Linked DNA regions of Homo sapiens: regions 1 and 3 are each linked to region 2. Evidence: fine-mapped expression QTL. A gene starts in region 2. Each other region holds a variant in brackets. All regions are shown on one strand. Distances are between the middles of the regions. Region 1 overlaps FAM13A (family with sequence similarity 13 member A). Region 2 holds the start of FAM13A-AS1 (FAM13A antisense RNA 1). Region 3 overlaps HERC3 (HECT and RLD domain containing E3 ubiquitin protein ligase 3).

The links. PIP is the estimated chance that this variant, and not a neighbour inherited with it, causes the effect.
Region 1: its variant is fine-mapped to the expression of FAM13A-AS1 in cerebellum (GTEx, PIP 0.93).
Region 3: its variant is fine-mapped to the expression of FAM13A-AS1 in blood mononuclear cells (TOPMed, PIP above 0.99).

Annotation. Positions count from the first base shown.
Region 1 is chr4:88,882,005-88,890,191 of GRCh38, reverse strand. The region is part of intron 6 of FAM13A (family with sequence similarity 13 member A); the gene reads left to right. Among named protein-coding and RNA genes, the nearest start is that of FAM13A, 170 kb to the left of the region's middle. The variant G/A (reference allele first, on the strand shown) is at 3,730.
Region 2 is chr4:88,705,713-88,713,899 of GRCh38, reverse strand. It overlaps FAM13A-AS1 (FAM13A antisense RNA 1), which reads right to left and starts at 4,111. Exons shown (of 5, transcript NR_002806.2): 1 at 3,635-4,111; 2 at 1,883-2,045. It overlaps HERC3 (HECT and RLD domain containing E3 ubiquitin protein ligase 3), which reads right to left. Exons shown (of 26, transcript NM_014606.3): 26 at 5,361-7,148. The coding sequence ends at 6,940.
Region 3 is chr4:88,641,781-88,649,967 of GRCh38, reverse strand. It overlaps HERC3 (HECT and RLD domain containing E3 ubiquitin protein ligase 3), which reads right to left. Exons shown (of 26, transcript NM_014606.3): 4 at 1-128. Among named protein-coding and RNA genes, the nearest start is that of NAP1L5, 52 kb to the left of the region's middle. The variant A/T (reference allele first, on the strand shown) is at 4,886.

The DNA.
Region 1 (8,187 bases), 180 kb before region 2:
AAGGTGAACAGCCACTGCCTCTTACCTCAAGGAGCCAGGCTGAGCTGGAGACCAGACAGACATACAGGCAACTAAATGAAAACATCACATGTGCTGGACTGATTTTCTGACCTCCAGTCTACCTTTGGTTTCACCTTCCTATTTGGCCAAGAACCAAATTATCCTGGTTGCCCTCATTTTTCATTAACCCTAAAGTTCTCACTGGCCTCTATGTTCCAGTTTCCCTTCATTTGCTGTGTTCTACAATTATGACCAATGCCTAGCCAAGGTTTTTAATGCTAACTGCTGTAACAAACATCCCCATTATAGTATGGGCTATGTTCAAAATCAGTGTATTTCTCGGTTCTTTCACAGTCTGTTGCAGGTAGAGTGGGATTCCTAGGCAGCAAGACCCTAAGCAGTGATTCTAGTCACAGGCTGCTTCCATCTTCTACTGGTTTCATCTGAAAACATGCCCTCTGAAATGGACACTGAAAAAGAAGATAGAAGGCGTGTGCAAAGTTCACAGGTCCATAACCGCCACAGCACAGAAGTGATACTTATCCCTTCTACTTACATTCCAGAACTCAGTAACATTCTTGGAAGTCTGGGAAATGTCATCTTCCAGTGAGCACAGGAAGAGGGAATGAAATAGGAGTTGATGAATACATAGTATTATTGCCACAACTCACCCTCCTGTTTGCCACCTATATTTTTCCATTTCTTTTATCATGCAAGAAACACATTTACTCCCTCTACAAAGATGAAAATCCAAAGAACCAAGCAGTCATTACAACCAGCTTACAAGACCAGAATTTCCTGATAATACATGAGTACTCCATCTGGTCTAGACATGGCTCTTCTTGGTCTGAGGATCTATGAAATAAAAAGACGAATTGCCTGTCCCTCCCTCCACACACATATTGCCATATACAAATCAGACAGCATAACCACACTCAACAATCCCATTCACACTTCAGCAGTATACAAATGGGACAGTATAACCACATTCAACAATGCCATTCACACTTCAGTACACAAACACACACACGCACAGAAAGTAGTGGAGGCTCCCTGATTAGACCTAAATTCTGTTTTCTGTGAGGAATTCCATTGCCTGTTTTCTTTCTGGCTGCTGCCTTCACCCCTGCGATTCCCCTCCTTGTCATTATTCCCCTGGGAGTGGGTATAGGGAGTGTGTTCCTTCAACTATGCAGCTTTCCTACTGTTCATGAAAGTCTGGTGACTCGAGGAATTTTTTTTTTTTTTTTTTTTTGGAGACGGAGTCTCGCTCTGTCGCCCAGGCTGGAGCGCAGTGGCACAATCTCGGCTCACTGCAAGCTCCGCCTCCCGGGTTCACAGCATTCTCCTGCCTCAGCCTCCTGAGTAGCTGGGACTGCAGGTACCCGCCAACACACCCGGCTAATTTTTTTTTTTTTTTTAGTATTTTTAGTAGAGACGGGGTTTCACTGTGATAGCCAGGATGGTCTCGATCTCCTGACCCGTTGATCCGCCCGCCTCGGCCTCCCAAAATTCTGGGATTACAGGCGTGAGCCACCGTGCCTGGCCTCAAGGATTGTTTTAAGCCTTGAACGACAAAGGCTTGTTTAGTCTGGGATGATTTATTTATTTATTTACTTTTAATGATAGTAGTGGTAGTTGCTTAGTTGGTTTGTTGTGGCTTGAAGGAAGTTGACAGTAAGTTCACTCAAAAATGTAAAAATTGACTTTTGATCTGTTTGCTTTCAGTCAGGTCCATGTGCCAGCTATAATACCCAAAGTAGCATTGTCTTTTCCTCTGCCTTTCAAATCTCAAGAGAAATCCTCTCACTGGAAGACATTTACCAGAATCCCACTGGCAGAAGATTCTGGGAAATACAGTTTCTGGGCTTTAAGCCTGGCAGTACAAAGCTATCTTATAAAAATTATATGAAATTATGTTTCAAATAAGCAGAATAAACCATATGTGCTGTTAAATTGATTAGAGCTGGCTTCATGGAGGAGACAGAATTTAAGTAGAAAATTTAAAAAGAAGAACTGGAAACTGGCCAGAGGAAAGATTTCAGTTAGAATGACATAAGCAAAGAGTATAAGGAGAAAATGAGCATCATATGCTTTGAGCAGAGTTGATAGACCAGTCTATAATGGGTAGAAGGTTGATGAAGGGAAGTATTAGAAGATAAATTCTGAAAAATAGGCTGCAGCCAAATTGTAGAGTGGTTTGATTTTTAAATCTTGCATAAAGATTGCCTTGCTGTCTGACAAAATTTACTAAACAAAATCAAGAGCAAACAAACATAAAACAAATTTAAAGAATAAAGGGAAATTTATTTTCTTGTCTCAGAGAGGTTTTAGAAAAATAACAAGAAAGGCACATATGGACCAGGCACGGTGGCTCACGCCTGTAATCCCAGCACGTTGGGAGGCCAAGGCAAGCAGATCACTGGAGGCCAGGAGTTTGAGACCAGCCTGGCCAACATAGTGAAACCCTGTCTCTACTAAAAATACAAAAAAATTAGCTGGGCATGGTGGCACGCATCTGGAATCCCAGCTATTTGGGAGGCTAAGGCAAGAGAATCACTTGATCCCTCGAGGCAAAGGCTGCAGTGAGCTGAGATCATGCTACTGCACTCCAGCCTGGGCAACAGAGGGAGACTCTGTCTCAAAAAAAAAAAAAAGAAAGAAAGAAAGGTACATATGTGAACCAAATGATAATTACCAGAGAGTTATTTTTTCCTGGGTCAGATGACTAGAGAATGAAAGCTCTTTGGCTTCAAAGCCTTACAAAAGCAACTGTCACTTAATAGTAATGTATCCTTGAGCTCATTATGGAATATTTAGTTATCTCAGTATTCTAAAATTTTTCTGTTTGCAGTTTGTCTTCAATTGGATTTTTCAAAAATTTATTTCTTTATTTATTTATTATTTCAATAGGTTTTTGGGGGAACAGGTGGTGTTTGGTTACATGAACAAGTTCTTTAGTGGTGATTTCTGAGATTTTGGTGCACCTATTACATGAACAGTGTACACTGTACCCAATGTGTAGTCTCGCCCCCTCCCACTCTTTCCCCAAGTCCCGAAAGTCCGTTGTATCATTCTTATGCCTTTGCATCCTCAGAGCTTAGCTCCCACTTATGAATGAGAACATACGATGTTTGATTTTCCATTCCTGAGTTACTTCAATTTAGAATAATGGTCTCTAATTCCATCCAGGTTGTTGCGAATGCCATTATTTTGTTCCTTTTTATGGCTGAGTAGTATTCCATGGGTAATATATATATCATAATTTCTTTCTTTTTTTTTTTGAGATAGAGTTTCACTCTTGTGGCCCAGGCTGGAGTGCAATGGCATGATCTCAGCTCACTGCAACCTCCACCTCCCGGGTTCAAGTGATTCTCGTGCTTCAGCCTCCCGAATAGCTGGGATTACAGGCATGCGTCACCATGCCCAGCTAATTTTTGTATTATTAGTAGAGACGGGGTTTCACCATGTTGGCCAGGCTGTTCTCAAACTCTTGACCTCAAGTGATCCACCCACTTCAGCCTCCCAAAGTGCTGGGATTATAGGCGTGAGCCACTGCACCAGGCCTATATACCATAATTTCTTTCTTTTTTTTTTCTTTTTAAGATGGAGTCTCACTCTTGTCATCCAGGCTGGAGTGCAGTGGTGCGATCTTGGCTCACTGCAACCTCTGCCTCCTGGGTTCAAGCAATTCTCCTGCCTCAGCCTCCTGAGTAACTGGGACTACAG[G/A]TGCATGCCACCACGCCTGGCTAATTTTGTAATTCTAGTAGAGATGGGGTTTCACCATGTTGGCCAGGCTGGTTTCAAACTCCTGACCTCAGGTGATCTGCCTGCCTCGGCCTCCCAAAGTGCTGGGATTACAGGTGTGAGCCACCACACCCAGCCACCAAAATTTCTTTATCCACTCGTTGATTGATAGGCATTTGGGCTGGCTCCATATTTTTGCAATTGCAAATTGTGCTGCTATAAACATGCGTGTGGAAGTATTACTTTTGTTTAATGATTTATCTTCCTCTGGGTAGATACCCAGTAGTGGGATTGCTGGATCAAATGGTAGATCTACTTTTAGTGCTTTAAGGAATCTCCACACTGTTTTCCATAGTAGTTGTACTAGTGTTCATTCCCACCAGCAGTGTAAAAGTGTTCCATTTTCACCACATCCATGCCAACGTCTATTTTTTTTTTTTATTTTTTGCTTATGGCCATTCTTGCAGGAGTAAGGTGGTATCACGTTGTGGTTTTGATTTGCATTTCCCTGGTCATTAGTGATGTTGAGCATTTTTTCATATGTTTATTGGCCATTTGTATATCTTCTTTTGAGAATTGTCTATTCATGCCTTTAGCCCACTTTTTGATGGGATTGTGTGATTTTTTTTTTTTTTTGCTAATTTGTTTGGATCCTTGTATATTCTGGATATTAGTCCTTTGTCAGATGTATAGATTACAAAGATTTTCTCCCACTCTGTGGGTTGTCTGCTTACTCTGCTGATTGTTTCTTTTGCTGTGCAGAAGCTTTTTAGTATAATTAGGTCCCATCTATTTATCTTTGTTATTGTTGCATATGCTTTTGGGTTCTTGGACATGAAGTCTTTGCCTAAGCCAATGTCTAGAAGGGGTTTTCCAGTGTCACCTTCTAGAATTTTTGTGGGCTCAGGTCTTAGATTTAAGTTTTTGATCCATCTTGAATTGATTTTTGTAAAAGGTGAGAGATGAGGATCTGGTTTCATTCTTCTACATGTGGCTTGCCAATTATCCCAGCACTATTTGTTGAGTAGGGTGTCCTTTCTCCACTTTATCTTTTAGTTTGCTTCATTGAAGATCCATTGGCTGTATTTGGCATTATTTCTGGGTTCTCTATCCTGTTTCATTGGTCTATGTGCCTATTTTTATACCACTACTATGCTGTTTTGGTGACTATGGCCTTATAGTATAGTTTGAGGTTGGGTAATGTGATGCCTCTAGATTTGTTCTTTTTGCTTAGTTTTGGATTGGCCATTCAGGCTCTTTTTTGGTTCCTTTGGTTCCATATGAATTTTCAGATTTTTTTTTCTGGTTCTGTTAAGAACAATTGGTGGTATTTTGATGGGAATTACATTGAATTTGTAGATTGCTTTTGGCAGTATGGTCATTTTCACAATATTGATTCTACCTATCCAAGAGAAGAGGATGTGTTTCCATTTGTTTGTGCCATCTATGATTTCTTTCAGCAGTGTTTTGTAGTTTTCCTTGTAGAGGTCTTTCACCTCCTTGTTTAGATATATTCCTAAGTATTTGATTTTATTTTTTTACAGCTATTCTAAAAGGGGTTGAGTTCTTGCTTTTATTCTCAGTTTGGTTGCTGTTGGTGTATAGCACAGCTACTGATTTGTGTGCATTAATTTTGTTTCCTGAAACTTTGCTGAATTCATTTATCAGTTCTAGGAGCTTTTTGGAGGACTCTTTAGGGTTCTTAGATATACAATCAGATCATCAGCAAACAGCGACAGTTTGATTCCTCTTCAGCAGTTTGGTTCCGCTTTCTTTCTTTCTCTTGTCTAATTGCTCTGGCTAGGACTTCCAGTACTATGTTGAATAGAAGTGAAGAGAGTGGGATCCTTGTCTTGTTTCAGTTCTTAGGGAGAATGCTTTCAACTTTTCCTCATTCAGTATAATGTTGGCTGTGGGTTTGTCCTAGATGGTTTTATTACGTTAAGGTATGCCTCTTCTATGCCAGTTTTGCTGAGGGTTTTAATAATAAAGCGATGATGGATTTTGTCAAATACTTTTTGTGCCTCTATTGAGCTGATCATGTGATTTCTGGTTTTAATTCTGTTTATGTGGTGTATCACATTTATTGACATGCATATGTTAAGCCATCTCTGCATCCCTGGTGTGAAACCCACTTGATCATAGTGGGTTATCTTTTTGATATGCTGTTGGATTTGGTTAGCTTAAGGATTTTTGCATCTGTGTTCATCAGGGATATTGGTCTGTTGTTTTCTTTTTTTTGTTATGTCCTTTCCTGGTTTTGGTATTAGGGTGATACTGGCTTCATAAAATGATATTGGGAGGATTCCTTCCTTCTCTATCTTGTGGAATAGTGTCAATAGGATTGGTACCAATTCTTCTTTGAATGTCTGACAGAATTCAGCTGTAAATCCATCTTTTCCTGGACTTTTTTTTTGGCAATTTTTAATTAGCATTTCAATCTTGCTGCTTGTTATTCATCTGTGCAGAGTTTCTAGTTCTTCCTAGTATAATCTAGGAGGGTTGTCTGTTTCCAGAAATTTATCCATCTCCTCTTGGTTTTCTAGTTTATGTGTGTAAACGTGTTTATCGTAGCCTTCAATGATCTTTTGTATTTCTGTGGTAATTTCAATTGTAATACCTCTCGTTTCATTTATAATTGAACTTATTTGGATCTTCTCTCTTTTTGTGGTTAGTCTCACTAATGGTCTATCAATTTTATTTATGTTTTGAAAGAACCAGGTTTTTGTTTCATTTATCTTTTGTATTTTTGTTTGTTTCTATTTCATTTAGTTCTGCTCTGATCTTCATTATTTCTTTTCTTCTGCTGGGTTTGAGTTTAGTTTGTTCTTGTTTCTCCAGTTCCTTGAGGTGTGACCTTAGATTGTCTCTTTGTTCTCTTTCAGACTTTTTGATGTAGGCATTTAAGGCTATGAACTTTCCCCTTAGCACCACCTTTGCTGTATTACAGAGGTTTTGATAGGTTGTGTCACTATTATCATTGAGTTCAATGAATTTTTTAATTTCCATCTTGATTTCATTGTTGGCCCAATGATCATTCAGGAGCAGATTGTTAAATTTCCATGTATTTGCATGGTTTTGAAGGTTCTTTTGGAGTTGATTTCCAATTTTATTCCACTGTGGCTTGAGAGCATACTTGATATATTTCAATCTTCTTAAATTTACTGATACTTGTTTTGTGGCTTATCGTGTGGTCTATCTTGGAGAATGTTCCATGTGTTGATGAATAGAATGTATATTCTCTAGTTGTTTAGTAGAATGTTCTGTAAATATCTTTTAAGTCTATTTGTTTTAAGGTATAGTTTAAATCCAGTGTTTCTTTGTTAACTTTCTGTCTTGATGACCTGTCTAGTCCTGTCAGTGGAATATTGAAGTCTCTGACTATTATTGTATTGCTGTCTATCTTATTTCTTAGGTGTAGTAGTAATTATTTTATAAATTTGGGAGCTCCAGTGGTAGATACATTTATATTTAGGATTGTGATATTTTCCTGTTGAACAAGTCCTTTAATCATTATATAATGTCCCTCTGTCTTTTTTAACTGCTATTGCTTTAAAGTTTGTTTTGTCTGATATAAGAATAGCTACTCCTGCTTGTTTTGTTGTCCATTTGCATTAAATATCTTTTTCCAACCCTTTACATTAAGTTTATGTGAGTCTTTATGTGTTAGGTGAGTCTCTTGAAGATAGCAGATAGTTGGTTGGTGAATTCTTATCCATTCTGCCATTGTGTGTATTTTAAGTTGAGCATTTATGCCATTTACATTCAACATTAGTATTGAGATGTGAGGTACTGTTCTATTCATCATGCTGTTTGTTGCCTGAAGACCTTGTTTTTTTTTTTTCCATTGTGTTTTTGTTTTGTAGGTGGTATGAGATTTATGCTTTAAGGAGGTTCTATGTTGGTATATTTTCAAAATTTAGAGCTCCTTTTAGCCTTTCTTGTAGTGCTGGCTTGGTAGTGGTGAATTATCTCAGCATTGTCTGAAAAAGATTGTATTGTCTGAAAAAGACAATACAGCATTGTCTGAAAAAGTCCGTAACTTTCCTTCCTTTATGAAGCTTAGTTTCACTGGATACAAAATTCTTGGCTGATAATTACTTTGTTTAAGCAGTCTAAAGATAAGCCCCAATCCCTTCTAGCTTGTAGGGATTCTGCTGAGAAATCTGCAGTTAATCTGATAGGTTTTCCTTTAGAGGTTAACTAATGCTTTTGCCTCACAGCTCTTAATTTTCTTTCCTTCATCCTGACTTTAGATTACCTTATGATTATGTGCCTAGGTGATGATCTTTTCATGATAAATTTCCCAGATGTTCTTTGAGATTCTTGTATTTGGATATCTAGATCTCTAGCAAGGCCAGGGAAGTTTTCCTCGGTTATTCCCTCAAATATGTTTTCCCAAGTTTTAGATTCATCATCTTCCTCGGGAACAACAATTAT
Region 2 (8,187 bases):
AATCTAAAGACTCCACCAAAAACTATTAGAACTGAAAAATTCAGTACAGTTACAGGATACAAAATCAACATACAAAAATCAGTAGCATTTCTATACACCAATAGCTAACAATTTGAAAAAGAAATCAAGAAAACAATCCTATTTACAATAGCTACAAAAAATTAAATACCCAGGAATAAATTTAACCAAAGTGAAGGATCTCTATAATGAAAACATAAAACACTGATGAAAGAAATGGAAGAAGACAAAAATAAATGGAAAGATTTCCCATGCTGATGGATTGAAAGAGCTAATACTGTTAAATATCTATAGTACCCATGGCAATCTACAGATTCAATGCAAGCCCTATTAAAATACCAATAAAATTCTTCACAGAAATAAAAAAAAAACTATTCTAAAATTCGTATGTATCACAAAAGACTCCTAATAGCCAAAGCAACCCTGAGAAAAAAAAGCTGAAGGCATCACATTACCTGACTTAAAAATATACTACAGGCAGGGCGCGGTGGCTCATGCCTGTAATCCCAGCATTTTGGGAGGCCGAGGCGGGCGGATCATGTGGTCAGGAGATCGAGACCATCTTGGCCAACACGGTGAAACCCTGTCTCTACTAAAAATACAAAAATTAGCTGGGTATGGTGGCAGGCGCCTGTAGTCCCAGCTATTTGGGAGGCTGAGGCAGAAGAATGGCATGAACCCAGGAGGTGGAGCTTGCAGTGAGCCAAGATCATGCCACTGCACTCCAGCCTGGGTGACAGAGCGAGACTCCGTCTCAAAAAAAAAAAAAAAAAAAAACTACAAAGCCATACGAACCAGAACAACATGGTACTGGCATGAAAACAGGCACATACATAGACCGATAGAACAGAATAGAGAACCCAGAAATAAATTCACATGTTTACAACCAAGTCATTTTTGACAATGGTGCCAAGAACATACATTAGAAAACGGACAGCCTCTTCAATAACTGGTGCTGAGAAAACTGGATATCCATATGCAGAAGAATGAAACTAGATTCCATACCTCTCACTATGTATAAAAAACAAATCGAAATTGATGAAATTAAGACCTGAAACTATTATATAAAACTGCTAGAAGAAAAACATTGGGGAAATGCTTCAGGACACTGGTCTGAGCAAAGATTTTTGGGTAAGACCTCAAAAGCACAGGCAGCAACAGCAAGAATAGATAAATATGATTACATAAAGCTAAAAAGCTTCTGCACAGGAGTGGGAACAATCAACAGAGTAAAGATACAACCTACAGAATGGGAGGAGATATTTGCAAACTGTCTATCCAATAAAAGATTAACCAGAATGTATAAAGAACTCAAACAATTCAAGAGTAAAAAAAAAAAATGTGATTTAGAAATGGGCAAATGATCTAAATAGACATTTCTCAAAAGAAGACATATAAATAGACAACAGGTATTAGAAAAAATACTCAATATCACTAATAATGAGGGAAATGAAAATCAAAACCACAGTGAGATACCATCTCATCCTTGTTAAAATGGCTGTTATCTAAAAGACAAAAAATAACAGACACTGGCAGGAATGCAGAGAAAGGGGAATGCTCACACCCTTTGGTGGGAATGTAAATTAGTGCCAGTATAGAAAACAGTATGGAGATTCCTCAAAAAACTAAAAATAGATCTACTATATGATCCAGCAATCCCACTACTACGTATATGCCCAAAATTTGAAAGGAAATCAGTATGTCAAAGAGACATCTGCATTCCCAAGTTTGTTGCAGCACTGTTCACAATAACCACGATATAGACTCAACCTAAGTATCCATCAACAGATGAATGGATAAAGAAAATGTGGTCTATAAACATGAGGGAATATTATTCAGTCATGAAAAAAGAATGAAATCTTACCATTTGCAGCAACATGGATGGAACTGGAGGTCACGATGTTAACTGAAATAAGCCAGGCACAGAAAGACAAATATTGCATGTTCTCATTCACATGTGGGAGCTAAGAAAGTTGCTCTCATGGAGGTAGAGAATAGAATGATAGTTACCAGAGGCTGGGCAAATACTAGGAGGAGAGGGATAAAAAGAGGTTGGTTAATGGGTACAAAAATAACAGTTAAATGGAATAAGCTCTATTGTTTGATAGCACAATAGGGTGGCTATAGTTAATAATTTATTGTATGTTTAAAAATAGCTAGAAGATTTGGAATGTAACCAACAAAAAGAAATGATAGATGTTTTGATATCTTAATTACCCAGATTTAATCATTATGCATTCATTGTATGCTTGTATCAAAATACCACAAGTACCCCATAATACGTACAACTATGTACCAATAAAAAAGTATTCAAAAATAAAAAGCTTATTAATAAAAGAAAAAAAAAAATCTTCTGAAAAAAAGAATTCTACAGAGAAGGATCCCCTAAAGGGTATGAAGTCCATCCCTCTCTCAGTGTTTTACAAAGGGGCCTGTCTTAGTCCAGTCAAGCCACTATAACAAAATGCCAAACACTAGGTAATTTACAACAGAAAATCATTTTTCACAGTTCTGGAGGCTGGGAAATCCAAGATCAAAGCACTGGTGGTGTCTGGCGAGGGCCTACTTTCTCACAGATTGTGCCTTCTTGCTGTGTCCTCACATGGTAGGGAAGGCAAGGCACCTCTCTGGGTTCTCTTTTATAAGGGAACTAATACCACTCATGAGGGTTCTGCCCTTATGATATAATCACCTCCCAAAGACCTCACCTCCTAATACCATCATCTTGGGGGCTAGGTTTCAACACATAAATTTTAAGAGGGAAACAAACATTCAGACCATAGCAGTGCCCACTGGCATCTTGGGCAGGATAAAGAGGAATTGTTCTATGCAATGCAAGGCATTAAGCATACCTGGTTCCTGGCTACTAACTACCAACAGAGACCTCCAGCTTCACTTGAGACCCACTGCAAATGACATGAGAACTGCACTGATCACTACTGAATTGCACACTGGCAGCAAAACAAAATTCAGTGTGATGTCTTTGCAGATACGTGGAACTCAGTGCGATGTCTTTGCAGATACGTGGAACTCGGTGCGATGTCTTTGCAGATATGTGGTCAAAGAAGTTACCTGCCACATTACAACATTCCTTTTTATTTGGCTACTGAGCAGCCTTAATCCAATTTGTTGCCCATCTCTAGCAGCTGGGCATAACACAGATTAATGGTCAAGTCCAGGTCCCACTATTTTGTGATAATGAGCAACTATTTTCTCTAATTAATTCCTTCATGTGAAAAACTGGGATAATGGTAATTCTAAGTACTGAGAGCTTATTATGTGCTAAGCGCTATTCTATATGCTTTCCATTAATTCATTTAATCCTCACAACAACTCCATGAGGTAGGCACTATTTCTGTTCTCATTTTGAAGAGGAAGAAAATGAGACATAGGTTAAGAAACCTGCCCAAGGTCAAACAGCTAGTAAATAGCAGAGCCAGGAGGACCCTGGTAATGGCAATTAAACTAGTTAGTGCATAGCAAATGTTGGTGCAGGATCTCATATGGGTCTGGTACACTGCACACAATTAATACAGGTTAGTTATTATTAGGTCGAAACCTTAGTATTAATATCTACTTCTGTGGGTTAATCTTAGTTAAAACTTGATTTTCTTACCTCTGAGGCAAATAAGCCCAAACAGTTGTTCTCTCTGATTCAACATCAAATTATGACTCAAGTTCCTCCTAACACTTCAAGAAGGTTTTTCACTCTGTTACTGTAATTTTTGCAAGTCTGGTCTCATAAGGATTGGTCAGTTGTTTTCTGTAAAGGGCTAGATAATATGTTAGGCATTGTAGGCCATCCAGTCTCTGTCATGTATCCTTCCAGTTTTAAAGTTTTCAACCCTTTTAAAATGTAAAAACCATTTTAGCCCATGGGCCATAGTTTGCCAACCCCTGCTCTCTGGGATTATTAATAAGAGTACCATATAAAACATCAAGAGACTTTCACATGGAGTAGATGGAACTATCAGAATTTGCTAATTGCCTCATTACACCGTCATTGATCCCCACCCACCACAATAAAGTTGCCAGATAATTTCATTAAAGTGGTAAATGACTAAAACAATGAAGAAGCATCTGAAAGTTTTCAGGGGAGGGAAGGTTGGTAGGTGGGTAGGCAAATCCAGAAATGCCTATGCAGAAGATTTAAGTCTTCTAAAGCATTGGTAATGAAGGGGAAAAGGAAACTATCTTAGAAAAATCATAGTGTTTTAGAAGCAGCATAAGATATCATTCATGCAACAAATCTTTAGAAATATGTATTGGGTATCTCTATGTTCAGGCACTCTCTCAGTAATGGAATTATAAAATTTTAGAGCTCAAAGTAACCTTAGAAATCATCTGATCCAATCTCATTTCATGGATGAGAATTCTGAGGCCTCAAAGTTAGTTAAAATAATTTGGCAATTTCTGTGCAAAATTAAATGTAGTGGGGTTTGTTTTTAACTCCTCAAATGTAGCACTTATGTAGATTATTAAATGTTTGTTGAATGGAGCTTATTAATGGAAAGCTCCTATTCTCTTTACCACCTTTAAACCACCTTTTTAATCTGGCAAAACAATACATTTTACTTGCTTTACCAATTTACTTAAAATCCTTTCTTTTTTTTTTTTTTTTGCTGTGTCTCACAAACTTTTGGTGTGCTTAAATGGCCTAACAATCACCAATCACTAAATGAACCAGTCTCTGATCCACCTTTAGTGCCTCCTTCTCCCTGCAGGCTCCTACCACCTCCACTCACTCCCCCTACCTCTCCTCAGATACTCTTCTCTAGTTCTGCTGCTGCCACTGTCACTGCTGTCTCAGCTCCTGTCTTTCTGCTTCAGTCCTTCCCACCTCAATACCTCCAGATTTAGACCATCCACATTTTCCTTCTTAAGACCCGGCTCAGGTCTTATCACCCTCAAGTTCTGAACATTGAAACAAATCCTACTTGGCTACTACTAAAGTTCCAGTGTTAGGCTAGTTCCTCAGCCCCAAATCTACCTTCTTTCTCCCAAGTCTTACTTACCATTATTTACTATTATTTGCCTATTTCCTCTGATGTTCCCTTCAAACTGTTCTTGGCTCTTGCCTAAATATGCCCCAATGTTTGAGCCTTTGCTAAAGCATCCCTCTCCATGAGAAACACCTTTTCGTCCATCCCAACCTTCAAAAACTTCATTCTTCCTTAATGCCATCTGCTCCTTGCCCCTGCTTTCTTCTCCATTTCTGCAGCACTTGGCTCTACTTTCTTATGCAGGAATCAAATCTGACCTTCTATTAGATTATCTGAGTATACGACCTAATGCTTCTACTAAAAGCAAGCTATCCATTCTGCAAGTACAATAAGAAATAGTTTTAAGTTAAAACACCAAATTTATTGCATAATATTGAACTATATGCACACACATAGAAAATAAACATTTCATATAACTGTATATATATTTTTAATCCTGTATTTATAAAGACTGAAAAACTACCAATTTAGCAATTGGAATAAGTTTTAAAAACAAAAAGAAAAAGCAAAAATCTACAATCCTTCATCAAGATTTGATGCTTTATCACAGTTCATAAATACTTCATTTTATATAAATAAGTCTTTTCTCTAGTTACTAGGAATTTAAAATTAGACTTACATGGATTCTTTAATCATGTAGAATTTTCTTACTCCATGATGAGGAAGGTTGAGCATGTCATTATTTTTAAAATACATATATTTGATTTAAACACAATCCCCCCTAAAATCCCACTGTAAACAAACATTTCGAATGTGATAAAGTTTCATAATAAAGAACGTCCTTAAATCTTAGCAATTAGGGAAGAGGAAAAAAAATCTGAGTAAAAATTTTGCAATTTAAATAAAAATTGAAAAAAAGGCTGCATGCATCCACTAGAAGGAGAGGAGAGGAAGGGAGCACTGAGTCAAGTAACAGAGAATGGGATAAAATAAAGAAGAAACGAAAGGAAAATCAGGGAGGACACAGGGTACGAAAAGGAGAAAATAAGGGAAGGGAGGAAGGAGAAAATGGTAGAGGACATAAGGTGATAGAAAAAGGGAAAGTAAATTTATTATTTCTACTTTTCTTGGACAATATAGAGACTCAAAATAGTTAATGCAACTTGCTCCAAAAGCGAGAGTGCAAGAGGTGGTGGGTCTATCAATTAACCTTATTGTCAAAGGGACAAGGATGAGCAAGAAAAAATTAGGCTCAGCTGCAACGAATGCTAAGCTGCTCTGCACATCTTTTAAAAGGTCTAGGAAATAGGCACAGCCATGGGAAAGTTGCTATTCCCTCAAGAACTTTTTAAAAGCAAGATATGTTTATATAGGCTCCCATAAATTCTTAGGAGTTCTGCCAAAATAATGGACCCAGACTCAGCTTTTTGGAATTGGGAGTTTCTGAAGCAGTCCTTTCCTCCTTTGGGTTAAAGGAGGGCTGCAACAAGCCAGAGGCATTTCCAAGTGTACAGAGGAAGGTGATGTTCTCGCATGCGCAGATAAAAAAGGACAGGTCAGTCTAAATCATTCTTATAGAGGAATGAGAAGTTAAGAGAAGGACAAGGAAGCACTGTGAGAAAACATCAGGGCTGAGAGAGACATTTGGGAAATTAAAGTTTAAAAATCCACTGCCATTTCATCCAGCAGAGTGCAACACATTCACAAGTGCAAGGAATACTGGGTAGTTTGGTTTAAAACAAAAACAAAAACACCTCCCATACAAGGGCCAATTTTTCACCCCATCCCCAACCTCTAATTTTTCAAAAAGGTTGTTTACTGCTATACAATCCCAGAAACACATCAACCAGGCTCAGTATTTAAAAGTCCCAACCCACTTAGACAATAAAAAAATAGAAATCACTCCCCATGATTTTCTGTATAGGCCTCAATGTGGACACTGAGGAACGAAGGGAAATACTGGACAAGCTGAGAAGCCTCAGGCCAAACTAAACCCTTCATAGTTGTCAAGGGCCTGGGTCAGCCGGGCACTCAGAATCTCTTTGCTGCTGTACTTGGGGAGGTCAAGAAGGTTGTAGCAAGTGTGGGCCACCGGCAAGTACTCCTCCCCGCTGGCTGTGGACTGGATGACAATCTGCAGACTGGCCATGCCGTAGATGGGAATCCGATCGCTGCCTGTCAGGAACACTGGGGAGAACGAGAAATGGCATTAGCAGCTAAGCAAACGGAAAATGGATCTCAGAGATCCTTCTGGCAACAGGAGAGGAAGGCATGACACCCTGTGGCTTGCATGAGAAGTACAATTACATTTATGTGCCAATATGCATCCTGTGGAATGAAAATTAGATGCCGTTAAGAAAAAAAAAAGGCCTCAATCAAATGTACACCCTCACAAATGTTAGATTTCACAAAATCAAAGAGGGAAGGAATTGCTGTCATAGGAAAAGAGGAGCTGATCTTAAGGGGAAAACAGAAGAAGACTGAAGTCTCTGACCTCAGGGTCTCCTCTCACCTCAAGTGCCTGATGCCTGTACCACCTTGTCTACGGAATTCCATTTAGGATCTATTTGCTCTCCTTTCCACGTCTCCATTTTTCTTAAACCCGAAGAGCTGACCCAAACATTATGTTAGACATTGCACTCTTGTGACATGCACTGTGACTTGGCAAAAGAGAGAGAGGGAGACAGACAGAGAAAGACAGCTCCTTGTTTTCTAGTGCTGAACAACACTCTCATAGTTGAATTGCTGGAAATTACTATAAGAAAATCATTAGTTAAGAAGCACTTTCAAATAACCTGCCATTCCCTGAGGCTGTGATACATAAAGTTTCTTGCCAAAAATCTCCAGAGTTAACAAACATTTCTGTAAGTCTAATGAACAGAAAGTGCCATTTTCTAGGGAAATTCCAGGACCATGAGCAGGCATCTCTTGAATGTCACAGCCCTACAAGCTCACTTGGCAAACCTTAACCTGTCATTCAGCTCTTCCACTACTGCTTCTCAATAGCCAATGCAGCCAGGCAGAGGAGAAGTGGTCCCTCTTTTTAAGAATTCTTGTGTAAGATCTCCACTTCCTCTCATCCTTGCTCCCATGTGAGCAGCAGAACCTGTTAAGTCCTACATTAATACTAATATATGCTCCATCTTATAAAGCAAAATAGACTGCCTATCAAACCCTGTGCTTTGATTTTACATGACTAAAATTCCATACTATGCACTAGCTAATT
Region 3 (8,187 bases), 64 kb after region 2:
GAGTCCTAGCTGACCATCACTCCCTGCACCCCAAGAAAACAGCTGGCCTCGGTCACTGAGGGCCAGACTGTGGGACTCGCCACATGCCACATGAATGATATGCTGATCTGCCAGAGCTCCAATTTGTTCTGAAAGAGACAAATTGGAGGAGGAAAATGTACAACCCAGAAACAGGAATACTGCTACCATTACACAGGATTATCTTCCTGGGCAGTTTTATTTTTTAACAAGAACCACTTAATCTGAATATTTATAGAGATTATAAATTTCACATATTTCTAAACTCTATCAATTTACATTCGGAGACCCGGGGTAACACACATCCCAGATATACTATAGTATATACTATAACTATAGTAGCACACACATCCCAGATGTTCCCTGAACCTATACAGCCATGTGCCTGGTGCTTCTCTCTCCAGGGAGAAGCCTGTACTATTTGGAGATGTTCCATCCAAGAGGCCTAAATGTTGAGTGGAAATGAAACATATTTCTAAAAGTAGCGGGAGTGAGTGAAACTCTGCCTGGAACAATGAGACCCTCTCCCCCCACATACAAACACACCCAGAATGCTAAACAACTTTCTCCCCTCAGTTCTGGATCACAGTCTTGTCTGTATCCAGCCAGGAAACAGAAGGATCTCTCTCTGGGAAAACTGGCCCAAAAGACAAGACCCACAGATAGTGACATTTGTGCATCCCTCAATGAAATGTCTAGCTTCCCATCAGTCAACAAGAATCACACACGCCATGTGAGCGGACACACACAGCTCCACTCACGTTAGCACCTCACCCTTCAATGTAAAAGGCCAGACAAGGATCACCCTATGTGTGAGGAAAACTTAAACATGAAAGGCAAAGAGCAACATAAACAGAAGGAAATGAACTCTGAAAAAACAGATCATGCAGGGAGCAAAGTTTCTTAAAAGTCTTTTGAGAAATCAAAGAAGATATTTCCACTCATGAACTAGAAAGAGAGTGCTATAGGAAAGTATTATTCAAAAAACAAACCAACAGAAATATCTTGGAAACCAAAAATGTGGTAGCATAAATTTAAAAAAAAAAAACCTTCAAAAGCAGGATTGAAAGTTAGAAATGAAGAGATTTTCTAGGAAATAGAAGAAAAAAGCAAAGAGAAAATCAGAAGGGGAAAAAAGATAAGAAATTATAGGATTGTTCCAAGAGGTCCAACATCCAGAAAGAGAATGGAGAAGACACAAGATATAAATATTTCAAAAAAAAATCACAAGAAAATTTCACACTGAAAGGATCTATTAAGTGCCCAGAATAATGACCAACAAAATACCTACTGTAGAACCCTTCATCTTGAAATTTCAGAATAACAAGAAAGAGTCTAAAAGTTTCTAGAAAAGAACATGTTTATATACAATAGAACAGGGATCAGAATGGCATCATACTTCTCAGAAGCAACACCGAAAACTGTAAGACAATGGAGGGATGCCCTCACAATTCTGAAGGAAAGTAACATCCAATCAAGAATTCCATACACCAGCTGTGAATGAAATGTGAGGCAAGGGGAGCAAAAGGGCAGTTCTGGAGCATGTAAAGCTCTCAAAATATTTTACCTCCCATACTGCTTTTCTCAGAAAGCTACTGGAAGATATGCCTCCAAAACAAAGAACTCAGGATTTAGGAACCAGGAATCTTACACAGACAGGAAGGAGGTGAAGAACCTTTCCAGACAGCTATGTAGCATGCCTACAAAGCAAAGGTGGAGGGATGTCTCCAAGGTGAAAAAGAAAACACTACTTAAAGAGTTTTAGAGCATTATGAGTTTTATAATTCTACCAGAGATACAGAGGTTACTGTGGAAAAAAAAATTAAAGTCAGTAACTTCAGGAAAAACTAAATGATTTATGAGAAAGAAAAGCAATCATGGTACATGCAATCATAATAACCAAACAAAAATACTTTCCATAGTTAATAATTGTCAAATTTTATTTAAAAGATTAACTCTTTGGGGAAGGATGAGTGTCTGGTGGTGAGGAAGAGGAGAGGGTAGGTAGAGAATATAACAGAACTCTAATCTTTGCCAGTGTGAAGTTTCCAGATTATGTCCAATATTGAAAAAAATCAAGAAATAATATTATAAGCATGTTATTTAGAGACATAAAGGTAAGCAGCAAAAAAAAAAAAAAAGCTAAAGAGTTGAAATGATAGGGAGTGAGATTCAAGATAAGGACAGGTGAGGCAGGGAACTGTTATTTAACCTGAACACAGTTTGCATAAATATATTCCTTCAAAACAATAACACTTTTTTTAACTGAAAATATGCTCATGCCAGAGAAATTACCATAATAAACAGAAAGATTCTGTAATTCCTATTGTTCCCATTGTCCATCTTCTTTAACCTCTGCTCACTACTTACTTCCCAACTCAGCCTTGCACCAGGCACAAAGAATAGTCCTATCTTTACCTTGCAAAAATGTAAGGAACGCTATCAAAGGAGCCCAGGTGGCTCAGACTCCACTCTAACCAAATTTCCACCTTGTACCAATTCCAGGACTTGGACGGCTTTTCTGTTCTCTAGACCTGGGGCCTAGCCTGATGCCTTATTCACGACTGAGGCCTGTCTCTTGGTACCTAACCTTCCTGCTACTGACTAGCAGCCTTACCTGTCTGAATGTTAGTATATGGCCTAACACAACACTAATAATTTTCCCCACTATCCTGACAGAATACTGTCGCTCTGATCTGTCTGCCGTTTTCTTTCCCTCAGTCTCTCAATAGCATCCCTCTCTTGATCTTGTCTTTACTACAGCTTAGTAGCCTCAAAAGGGAACACCTGGATTCCAATGACCATTGACTCCCAGTCACGTCAATCTCTAGGCAAACCAATTCCTGTCCCATCACTCACCAGCCGCACCTGAGCTCCTTTGATAGCATTCCTTACATTTTTGCAAGGTAAAGGACTATTCTTTGTGCCTGGTGCAAGGCTGAGTTGGGAAGTAAGTAGTTGAGTAGAGGTTAAAGAAGATGGACAATAGGAACAACAGGAAATCCAGCTACCCTCACCACAACAATAAAACCTGCAGCCACAAAGGCAGAAATACTGTTCAGCAATGCAAATGTTGATGGAGAACCAAACCACTGGTTACACAAGTCTAACTTATTCTATTTCTTCTAGCCAGAAAACTGCGCTCGTCTAATTCAGGCTGGAGATCTGTCACTGTGGAACTATGATCCCTCTTCTAGAATCTACCCCCTAGGTCAGCCCAGTGTGCTGATGAATGCCTCATTCACTCCCCTCTCTGAATACACCCCTGCCCCACTTGGGAACATTCAGGCTGAAGTGCCCTCTGATTCATTTTCACATGCAGTCTCTTTTGATCCATTCCGTCAAGACTATACACTATATTTTGCAGATGATGATGGAACCTCAACCCACACATTAAAATAACTAAACACACTGAAGAAGCATTTGGTATTTTTCGAGAATAAAAGTATACTTTCTCTTTGAACCTTCCACAGCAACACTTTAAAGTTTTTAAAACTCTTTAGTAATGTTTCCAGTTCTGAACAAGTCATGGTAGTTAGGACAGCACAGTGGCCAATGTGGAGTGCTGCTTACAGCAAGTCTGCCGTTCAGCTGGACTTGCATTATTAGGGTTAGTTCTACTTAGCTCTTGAGCCCATCATAATTTTTTAATGTTTTTTGAGTTAATGGTAAATTTGTCATTTAACCACCAAAAGATGGTAACTGAGAAGGATGATATGAGTCTAGGGGGTAGATGGATGATGCAGATTCTTAAGCCTTGCAACAACCCTGTAAGGCAAGGGCACAGGGTTGTTGTCCTCAGCTCAGAAAGAGGATGTAATTTGGCCAAGGCTCACAACTAATGATTGGTGGAACTGGGATGGACACCAGGTCTGTCTGACTTCAAAGCCCATTATACTTAACTAAGCTATATTGTCTTTCCTCTGGAGAAGAATTAGATAGATTTTAAATTGGTAAAAGTAACCTACAAAGTGAATACCCTATTTATGGATAATGGAAAACTAACTTTTTCCTCATCGTCTGTTCACACGAGAAACACATCCAATGGCTTACAGTAAATAATATCAGCATCTGGGTAGAAAGGACAGTAGTTCCCCCTTATCTGAGGTTTTGCTTTCCAGAGTTTCAGTTACCTGCGATCAGTGCAGTGCAAAAATATTAAGTGGAAATTTCCAGAAATAAGCAACTCATAAGTTTTAAATTGCATACCATTCTGAGTCATGTGATGAAATCTCTCACTGTCCCGCTCTACCTGGGACATGAACCATCCCTTTGTCCAGCATATCCATGCTGTATATGCTCCCTGCCTGTTAGCCCCTTAGTAGCTGCCCCTGTTATCAGATTGAAAAAGCATAGTATATATAGAATTTGGTACTATCCAAGGTTTCAGGTATCTAGTGGGGGTCTTGGAACACATCCCCTGCAGATAAGGAGGGACTACTATATACAGTATATACAAAATTAGTGATTAACAGTTGGCACTAAGTTTTTAATAAAACTATCACAAAATAAATGTAAGCAGTTGATAGTACAAAGAGGGTTAAACTTTCACCACTTAGATGTCTCCTTTCTGCTTTTCCGCAAATTGTCAACTCTACAATTATACTTTTCTTTAATAGTAGAAAACAAGACAGAGACATATTGTAGGAAACCCAGTTCTTCACCCTACCATTCTGCACATTCTAAGTCCTCACATTCACCCTAACTCTTGATTTCCTGTTCCCACCGAACTCTTACCCTCCTGCACATCTTTCCTCCTGCTGCTATACTCTGCTCTCCTGACTGCTTTTTCTCCAAAATACTATCAACCCAGTCTGTGGGGTGCAGCAGACTTTTATTGAAAGTCTGGGTGATGGAGATACACTGT[A/T]TCTCGGCAAACCGCTCAAAACAAAATATTGTACATCCAAGTTCCTCTGCAGTTCCCAACACAGAAGATGGCCTGGTATCTAATTTTCATCCTAGAGTCTCCCTGCCTCCCACAACATGACTAAGTCTCTTTCCCTCATTTTGTTTGTTCCTGTATCTGAAAGGTCCTTTTCCAAAGCCATATTCCAATTTATTTCTTAATTAATTACTTTGGTCTAAACATTTTGGGGTATCTGGACTATTTCCATAAGAGATTTTCTATCTTGTTTCTGAGCCAAGGCACTGAAACCAGAGTCAGCTTCAAAAAATTTTTAATTATCATAGAATAAACTTGACCTTTTTTTGGTATATAAGTCTATGAATTCAAACACATGTAACTACACAAATAAGTCTATGAATTCAAACACAATCAAGATACAGAACAGTCCCATCACCCCAAAAATGTTCTTCATGCTATTCCTTATAGTTGCATCCTCTCCTCATCCTTAACCCCTGACAACCAACAATCTGTTTTCTCTCACTATAGTTTTGAGTTTTTTATGCTGTCATGTAAATGGAATCATATAGTGTCTAACTCTTTGAAACTGGATTGTTTTACTCATAATGCCTCTGAGATTCAATTAAGTGGTTGCATGTATCAACAGTTTGTTCCTTTTATTGGTAAGGAGTATTCCACTGTATAATGGATGAACTACAGAGCACTGTTCCCAGTTTTTAGTGATTATAAATAGAGGTGCAATGAACATTCACATACAGCTTACTGTATGACAATAAGTTTTCCTAACACTGGAGTAAATACCCAGGTGTGAGATTGCTAGGTTATGTGGTAAATATATGTTTATTTAAAAAAAAGAAAGAAAAAACCTGCCAAATCATTTTCCAGAATGGCCATCCCATTTTGCATTAACACCAGCAATTATGAGAGTTCCAGTTGCTCTGCATCCTTGCCAACACTTGCTATTATCAGTATTTAATTTTACCCATTCTAACAAGTATAATGGTATTTCATTACGGTTTTAATTTGCATTTCTCTAGTGGCTAAAGATGTCAAACATCTTTTCATGTGCTTATTTGCCATCCATCCTCTTTGGATAAATGTCTGTTCGAAGTTCTTGCCAATTTTTAAAATTAAATTTTTATTTCACTATTGAGTTGTTTTTTCATTCTCTTAACACACTCATAGATAAGTCTACTTTAACAACTTTTTCCTTTATGGATTATGTTTTTGGTGTCATGTCTAAGAACTCTCTGCCTAACCTCAGGTTATGAAGAATTTCTCCTCTGCTTTCTTCTGAAAGCTTTATTGACTCACATTTTACATTGAGATCTGTGATTCATTTTGAGTTAATTGTTTTAAAAAGCTGTGAGATTCAGATCAAGGTTCTTTTTTTTAAGGTATGAATGTCCAAGTGTTCCACTACCCTTTGCTAAAAACAACTAACAAAATCCTTTCTATATGGAATCTCTTTTACATTTCCATCAAAAGTCAATTAACCACATTTGTGTGGATATATTTCTGGGCTTTATTCTGTTCTATTGGACTGCGTCTACACCTCTGTCAGTACCACATACCCTGGATTACTATACCTCTATAGTAAGCCTTAAAATCAGGTGATTCCTTCAACTTTATTCATATTTTTCAAAATTGCTTCAGGTATTCTAGATCCTTTACCTTCCCATATAAACATTATAATTGGCTTGTCTATATCTACAAAAAAAGAATCCTACTGGAATTTTAGCTGAAATTGTGTTAAATCTATAAGTCAACTTGAGAAGAACTGAAATATTTGCTATAATACGTTAAGGGCCTTAATCCATGAACACAATATGTCTCTACAGTTACGAGGTCTTGGATTTCTTCTACCAGACTTTTGTAGTTTTCAGCATATAAATCTTATATATGTTTTGTTAAAGTTATACCTAAGTATTTTATTTGTTTGGAAATATTATAAATTGTATTTTTTATTCCAGTTTCCAATTGCATATCGTTAATATATAGATATAGTACATTTTTGTGTATTGACCTTAAATCATACAAATTTAACTAATAGTTTTTTAATTTTCAATGTAGACACTGCAATTTTTAATAGAAAGAATTTTTTCTGAGAATAGAGATGGTTTTTTTTCTTCCTTTCCAATTTGTTTGCTTCCCCCTGCCACCCACACACCCCCCGCCCCCATTCTTTCCTTATTACACTGGCTAGGACTTCTAGCATGATGTTGAATAGCAGTAGTGAGAGTGGACATCCTTGCCATGTCCAATGGTCTGAATGTTTGAATCCCCCAAAACGTATATGCTGAAATCAACCCCAAAGTGATGGTGTTAGGTATTGCAGCCTTTTGAGAAGTGATAAGGTCATGAGGGCAAAGCCCTCATGGTTGAGATTAGTGCCCTTATAAAAGAGACCATAGAGGGCTGGCTAGCTAGCCCCTTTCACTGTATGAAGATAGAGCTAACAAGGTACCATCTATGAGGATGACAGTGCTCGGCAGACACCAAATCTGTTGGCACCTTGGCCTTGAAGTTTCCAGCCTCCAGAACTGTTAAGAATAAATGTTTGTTCTTTATAAGCCAACAAGTTTGTGATATTTTTGTTATAGCACCCCAAATGAACTGAAAGAATGCAATCTTCCAACACTGTTTGACATAGCTATAAGATTTGTTGGTAGATGTCCTTCATAAGGTTGAAAAAGTTTTCTTCTACTTCTAGTGTGTTCCTCATGAGAGTTCTTGTCATAAATGGATGCTGCATAATGTCAAATTCTGTTTTCTGTATCAACTGACATAACCATGTGAGTTTCTTCTTTAGACTGTTTTTCCTATTGTTTAAAGCAGATTTTATTTCATCAGTGTCATTTCTTATCTAAATGCTTGATAACATTTGGCAGAGAAACCACGTGAGTCTGGAGGTCTAGAGATTTCTTCCTTCCTTTTTTTTTTTTTTTTTTTTTTGAGACAGAGTCTCGCTCTGTTGCCCCAGCTGGAGTGCAATGGTGTGATCTCGGCTCACTGCAACCTCCACCTCCTGGGTTCAAGTAATTCTCCTTCCTCAGCCTCCCGAGTAGCAGAGATTACAGGCATGCACCAGCATGCCCAAGTTAATTTTTTTTATTTTTAGTAGAGATGGAGTTTCACTAAAAATACAATATGTTGGCCAGCCTGGTCTTGAACTCCTGGTCTCAAGTGTCCTGCCCACCTCAGCCTCCCAAAGTGCTGGGATTACAGGCATGAGCACCGTGCCCGGCCAAGGGGAACTTCTTTTTAAGGCTTTAAACCATGAATTCCATTCTTTATAGTTATAG